Linked DNA regions of Homo sapiens. The protein of the gene in region 1 interacts with the protein of each later gene in a biochemical or structural test. Each region holds a gene or a part of one and is shown on either strand. Other genes may lie near its edges.

What was found.
Region 2: the proteins of TC2N (region 1) and EPS15 interact in a test that uses a peptide from one of them, tested with the Homo sapiens proteins (one large-scale study listed by BioGRID).

The regions. Positions count from the first base shown.
Region 1 is NC_000014.9:91,794,537-91,798,036, forward strand, and holds part of TC2N (tandem C2 domains nuclear protein), read right to left. Parts: intron 3,366-3,500; coding exon 3,249-3,365; intron 1-3,248.
Region 2 is NC_000001.11:51,354,935-51,358,974, forward strand, and holds part of EPS15 (epidermal growth factor receptor substrate 15), read right to left. Parts: intron 1,913-4,040; coding exon 1,766-1,912; 3' UTR 1-1,765. UniProt on the Homo sapiens protein: Involved in cell growth regulation. May be involved in the regulation of mitogenic signals and control of cell proliferation. Involved in the internalization of ligand-inducible receptors of the receptor tyrosine kinase (RTK) type, in particular EGFR.

The DNA.
Region 1 (3,500 bases):
TTATACTAAATTAACTATGCCTGTGCTCTATAAAGGGAACAACAAAGCCTGGATAACAGCATATCTGTTTACAGCATGGTTTACTAAATATTTTAAGTCTACTATTGAGATCTACTGCTCAAAAAAAAAAAGATTCCTTTCAAAACATTATTTCTCATTGACAATGCACTTCGTCACCCAAGAGCCCTGACAGAGATGTATACAGAGATGAATGTTATTTTCATGTCTGCAAACACATCCATTCTGCATCCCATGGATCAGGGAGTAATTTCAACTTTCAAGTGTTATTACTTAAAAACTAAATTTTGTAAGGCTATCACTGCCATAGATAGTGATTCCTCTGATGGACCTGGGCAAAAGCAATTGAAAACTTTTTAGAAAGGATTCAGGATTTTAGATGCCATTAAGAAAATTCATGATGCATGAAAGGTCAAAAAAAGGACATTAGCAGGAATCTGGAAGAAGTTTATTCTAATCCTCATGGCTGACTTTGAGGGATTCAAAATTTCGGCAGAGGAAGTAATTGCAGATGTGGTGGAAACAGCAAGAGAACTAGAATTAGAAGTGGATCCTGAAGATGCAATTGAATGGCTGCCATCTCATGATACAATATGAACAGATAAGGAGTTGATTCTCACACATGAGCAAAGAAAGTAGTTTCTGGAGATGGAATCTACTCCTGGTGAAGATGCTGTGAACGTTGTTGAAATGAATTCAGAGGATTCAGAATATTACATAAACTTAGCTGAAAAGCAACAGCAGGGTTTGAGAGGATGGAATCCAATTTTGAAAGAAGTTCTACTGTGGATAAAATGCTATCAAACAGCATCACATACTACAGGGAACTTTTTTGTGAAAGGAAGAGTCAATAGATGTGGCCAACTTCACTGTTGTCTTATTTTAAGAAATTGCCACAGCCACTTCAACCTTCACTAACCACCACCCTGATCATTCAGCAACCATCAACATCAAGGCAAAACCTTCCAACAGCAAAAAAATTACAACTTGCTGAAGACTCAGATGATCATTAACATTTTTTAGAAATAAAGTATTTTAAATTAAAGTATGTAAATTACTTTTTTTAGACATAATGCTATTGCACACTTAATGGACTACAGTATAAAGATAACTTTTGTATGCACTGGGAAACCAAAAAACTCATGTGACCTGCTTTATTGCAATGTTCATTTTAGTGTGGCAGTCTGGAACTGAACCTACAGTATCTCCGAAGTATGCCTATACTGTGCCCAAACTGTTACTCTTGTTGTAATAGCTTATGTCTGTCTGTACAGCCAGAACTGTCTTTCTGAGGGTCTCACAACTACTGAGCTATCTTTTTCTTTTAGAGTCTCAAGTCATAGAATCACACCAATTATATATTACACACAAAATGTTTAATGAGCTTACAAATTATGCAAGTGTGATGCTTCATTTCACACTTTCTGTATTTTGCCAAATAGGAGTCTCCCAAACAAATTTATATATAATAATAAAATTGTAAAATGAAAGATTCCATACAAGTTTTAATATGGGAACATTTTTCCTAACTTTTCCTAAGTTAAATTAGCTTTATTTGAAAATCAAAAAGTAAAATTGTTTAATTCAGAAAGTATTCATCTATGAGTGTCAAGGTTATAATGAGTTAAGGTTTATTTCTAGCTAGACTTTCAATGATACATATTTTCATAAAGTAAGATCCCAATATATATATACATATATACATATACACATACATACATATATACACATTCATACACATATACACATACACACACAACCCAATTTTGATCATTGTCTTTTTCATTTATTAAAAATGTTTTTCCAGCTCCTTAAAAACTCTTCCTAAACATTAGTTTTCATAGTTACCTAGTTTTCTATCACATGGTGTTATGGGATGAATTACACCCCCCTAAAAAAGATATGTTGAAGTCCTGAGCCCCAGCATCTCAGAATGTGAACTCATTTGGAAACAGGGTCACTGTAGATGTGATCAGTGAAGTTAAGAAAAGGTAATACTGACATAGGGTGGACCCCTAATGACTGGTATCCTTTAAGAAGATGGCCATGTGAATACACAGAACACAGGTATAATGCCATGTGAAGACAGAAGCAGAGACTGGAGTGATCTACAAGCCAGGGAATGTCAAGGATTGCTGGCCATCACAGTAGCTGGAAGAGAGGCATAGAACAGATTCTCCCTCAGAGAAGGAATCAACACTGCTGACATTTTAATTTTGGACTTTCTCCAAAGCTGCAAGAGAGAAAATTCTGTTGCTGTAAGTCACCCAGTTTGTGGTACAGTACTGTTATGGTAGCCCTAGGAAACTAATACACATAGGTACACCATTAGGTTTTTCAACCATTCCTCTGTATGACACATTTGAAGTTTTTTCAATTTTTCTTCAAACAAAACTTCCAAGAGTATTTTATATATTTTTGTATTTTAGATTATTTCCACAGAAATAATTTCCAGTTTCAAAGTAGAATTACTGTTTAAAAGTATAAATATTTTAAGGTTTTGACATGTAGTGTCAAGATAATTTCTAAGAAGTTGTATGTTCTAGAATACCTGTAAAAGTTTTCCTAATTCTAAGAAGAAAGCAAAGAAAGAAAGAGGAAGAAAGAAACAGAAAGCAATACACGCAATTTAAATTTGTATTTCTATGATTAATAGTGAGAAGAAACTTTTTATATGTTTATTAGTCATTTGAATGATATTATTTTAAAATGATGTCTTTTAGAAGATATCTTTTCATTTGCATAGAAAAACAATAATCTTTTAACCTATAAAAAGTGACAGAAATGAAGATGTATTTAAATTAATGTAAAATCTAGGATCTACAAAACCAAACTCAGGATCATAAGTCTTTCTGTTATACTAATTGGAAATATTTAAAAGAAATTCATTGCAATCATGAATTTATTTTTCAAAGCCAAAGTGGGTTGGGGGAAAGAGAAGCCAAGATTTATTTCCTTTCACACAAGAAAAGTAAACAGGTTTCTTAGATATTGTTAATCTTCTATATATTTTAGTGAATAAGATATTCTTTTTAAATGCATCTTAATACTAGACAATGAAATATCAAATATTTTTCAGACTCAAAGTTGCCTTGAAAAAGCAATAATACATAGTTGTAGTTTCCCTAAGATAAAAGACTTTCTTATTCTGACTTGTTTACATGGGTAAAAGTGACAAATATAAAAAAAAAAAAAACAGAAAAGAAATTCAAATACAAACAGCCACTTACGTTGGAACCTTCCTTGGCTGAAGATTTGAAATGCACTGGTTTGGGCAATGTAAGTATTCCTTTTATAGAAACAGTAGGAGTGTCTCCATAACTAGAGGGCCAACTTAAATCTCTGCACTAAAAAAATTAAAAATACAGTTTGAATTTTACAAAGGATCCAACAATACAAACATTTGATGTATTTCTTGAGGTACTGACTTTAGATAAAAACTGCAAAAAATAAACTTGTCTACTGAGACCTCATGTTGCATC
Region 2 (4,040 bases), on another chromosome or scaffold:
GTCAACTTACCTTTATCCTAAGGAGTAAGAGGAAGAAAATAAACAAAAATACCACCTATCACAACTCCCAGTCAAATTTTGCAGAAAATCCTTAGGTCACTGGATTCGTTTATCAAAATTAAGCCTTGTGATTATGATTCAGCCCTTGCTTCATATGTATGACTTTTATGCAGAAATGTTTCTATTTACAAAGGTAGAAAAAAGTTAGCAGTGCAAGATAGTGGTTTAAAGTTTGTTTTAAACTGTAGGAGTCTAATTGTGTAATGGAAAGAAAACAAAACAAGCACCATTTCAAGAAGAAATGAATTGGATATTTTGGAATTTATTTATAGGCTAGGCAATAAGTTACTCAGATTAACACAGATCAATACCACCTTGACTTGTTGACCCAGAGAATTCTAATTAGATTTTAGGTGCATTTTTCTTTATCTTGGTATTTAATACATCATCTAAGTCAGTAACCGTGTTAAACAAAATTAAAATGACAAGTTACAGCTTACTTCACAGTCTATTTCAAATTCAGCTTGTCCACTAGGTCAGTTTTACAGGAGATGGTCTTTTAACATGAAGAGGTCTGATAATCTGGCAGGTCTCTTCTCTCCCAATTAAAAAAACAAGAGTTTTTTTGCTAGCTTGACAATTTTATAGGTGAAAAACATGAAGTGAGTAAATAAACTAAACCACAAAGATGGACAAAAAGCAATATGATATAAAACACATCACTTTTTCTATTTGTATTCAGTGAAAGTTTTTACATTTCAAGTAAATGAGCCTTCATTAAAAAAAAAAAAACAAATATATATGAAAAATTAAAGTACCTTCCAGTTCTAGCTTGCTGAAGTTTCTTCTGCAAAAGTACAAAAATTAACCCACTAAGAACTAAACAGGACAGGGCCACGGCAAAGGCAGAATGGCTGCCATGTTAAGACTTTTGCTTGCCTTATACTGATGGGTATATTTTAGGTGATAAATTTTCTCCACTATCTATCACTTAAAATGAACATTTTCTTACAAACTTTATTTGTAAGAAACTGATTTTTATTAATTAGCAAACACACTGAGAGGTATCTGTTGATCTAAAATTCTCTAAATCCAGATAAATCTTTTTAAAAATTTATTTCACACATGAGGCTTTAATATTTTTAGTTAGGAAAAGATCGAATCTGAGGCTATAATGGTTCAACCTACAGCATCCCTTTTCCATAGTGGAGTAAATCTGTGCAAAATATTTTTCCTTATCTCTGAAAAACAAATTAAGTAGAGGAAATTTAAAAATGCACTTTAGCCAATTTGCACCAATCATAAAAGAAATAAGATATTCTTTCCCTTACCCTCACTCAACCATTCCAATCAGGGGAGAATACTGCAAACTTTAAGAACCTCACTGGCTATCATCAGAATAACTACAGAACAGGGTAGTGCAGGGTGAAACTATTTCTCTATATTCCAGAAGGCAGAAGCTTGGGTGCTCTAGCTTTACAAGTAAAATAGCACAGGCAGGCAAAAGCTCACAGTAAATGTATACCAGAACAGGGGCCTAAGTGAAGGTGAATTTGTCTGACTGGGTTACGGCTTTTATAAGAAAAAAAAAAAAAGACGAATCTGTAATGAAGAAAAAAAAAAAATCCTAAAATTTTGTCACATTTACAGGAATCTCAAACCTTTTGTATTCCCATGCTCACAGGTAGTTTTGATACACATTGTAAATAGTTTCAGTATTCAGGAAGAAGAATACTATATTGTTGCCAAAGAACAAGAGAATTCTTCATGCTTCTGATATCTCAGATTTGCTGAGTGCAATAGCCAGTTCTAAGTCTTCTTGTTCCTGCTGATTTAGTCGGGCAAGCCTCTGCTCTTCCTCTCTCTCACTTTCCCTCTTGGCCCATTCGATCATATCTTCTTCAGAGGGATACTGCCATTTAAAAGATCGATGAACAAACGAATAAATAAATGAGTAAAGCAAGTAAAAAGAAGGAAAAATAGTTTTTACAAAAGGACACCTGAAGGACTCTGGAAATAGTCTGGTTACTTGTTAATTCTTTTTTTTTTCCCCCTGAAAACATGTTTAATATTAACCAGTTATTAAGCTATAGTTTAATTTAAAAAATTAATTCAATCTATAGATAGAAAGTCTATAAAACTAAATGTTAAAAATGCCACTAGGCTAGATGTGGTGGCTCATGCCTGTAATCCCAGCACTTTGGAGGCTGAGGCAGGTGGATCACCTGAGGTCAGGAGTTCGAGACCAGCTTGGCCAACATGGCAAAACTCGCTCTCAACTAAAAATACAAAAATTAGCTGGGCATGGTGGTGGTGCCTGTAATCCCAGCTACTTGGGAGGGTGAGGCACATGAATCACTTGAACCCAGGAGGCAGAGGTTGCAGTGAGCCGAAAATGCACCCCTGCACTCCAGCCTGGGTGACAAAGTGAGATTCCATCTGAAAAAAAAAAAAAAAATATATATATATATATATATATATATATATATATATTTTTTTTTTTTAAATGTGATATATATATATATATATCTCACTAAAAAAAGTAGAAATGCTTATAGTAGATTAGAAGATTTAAAAACAGGACAGGGCTAGCCTTTTTGACCTAATGTAATGTAAAATATTTACCACTTCAACTTTACTGAGACCCTCACACAACAAATCATTTTTAATTTAATCCCACTGGTAGTTTCCTAACCCTTAATGTGTAAAAAAGCTAAGAAGCAAGAAAAAAAAAAAAAAGCTGATTTTGCTATACATCATATTAAAGTATTGGGTATACTAAGCAAGATGTGATTTAAACCTAATCTTTTTTTTTTTTTTTTGAGACAGAGTTTTCGCTCTTGTTGCCCAGGCTGGGTGCTATGGAGCAATCTTGGCTCACCACAACCTCCGCCTCCCGGGTTCAAGCGATTCTCTTGCCTCAGCCTCCCGAGTAGCTGGAATTACAAGCATGCACCACCACGCCCGGCTAATCCTGTATTTTTAGTAGAGATAGGGTTTCTTCATGTTGGTTAGGCTGATCTCGAACTCCTGACCTCAGGTGATCCGCCCATCTCGGCCTCCCAAGAACCTAATCATATTTTATAAAAAGCATTTTGAGCCAGGCATGGTGGCTGACATCTGTAATCCTAGTTCTGTGGGTGTGGGCCAATTGCTTGAGCTCAGAAGTTCAAGAAGTTCATCTTGGCAACATGGCAAAACTCTGTTTTTACAAAAAAAATTAGCCAGGTGTGGTGGTGCACATCTGTAGTTCCAGCTACCTGGGAGGATCACCTGAGCCTGGGAAGTTGAGGCTGCAGTGAGCTGTGATCATACCACCGCTCTCCAGCCAGATCGACGGAGTGAGCCAAAAAAAATAAAAATAAAACAAAAAGCATTATGAAGATTTCTCCAGGCTTTGGGAACTTTTAGACCAGTCTAAATAAAATCTTAACACTCATAATTATTATGTTGGGGAAATATTTTTATCTACCCCAAACAGCAACCTTGGCAAATACTAAATTAAAAATTCTAATTGGTTTCAAGTCTTGTTACATAGAAAATCCTTCATGAAAGGATGAAATAAAATACACTGTCAGGCTTTTGAAATGGTAGTTTTTTTCCCTAGGGAATTAAGCAAAACTTTGAAACGTGTAATGCTTAACCACATCTTTCACAATGAAAAAAGAAGATGTTCTTATTATAAGCTGTTTTTTATTATACTATATTGAGATTTTGGAGCAAAATGCCTCAGCTGTTGTTCAAGACTCCTTCCAACCAGATTTGTTTTTTTTTGTTTTTTTTTTTTTTTTTGAGGCGGAGTCTCGCTCTGTAACTCAGCTTGAGGACAGTGGCACTATATCAGCTCCCGCAACCTCTGCCTCTGGGGCTTAAGTGATCCTCCCACCTCAGCCTCCCTAGCTGGGATTACAGGCATGCGCCACCATGCCTGGCTAATTTTTGTATTTTTAGTAGAGACGGGGTTTCACCATGTTGGCCAGGCTGGTCTCACACTCCTGACCTCAAGTGATCCGCCCGCTTCGGCCTTCCAAAGTGCTGGG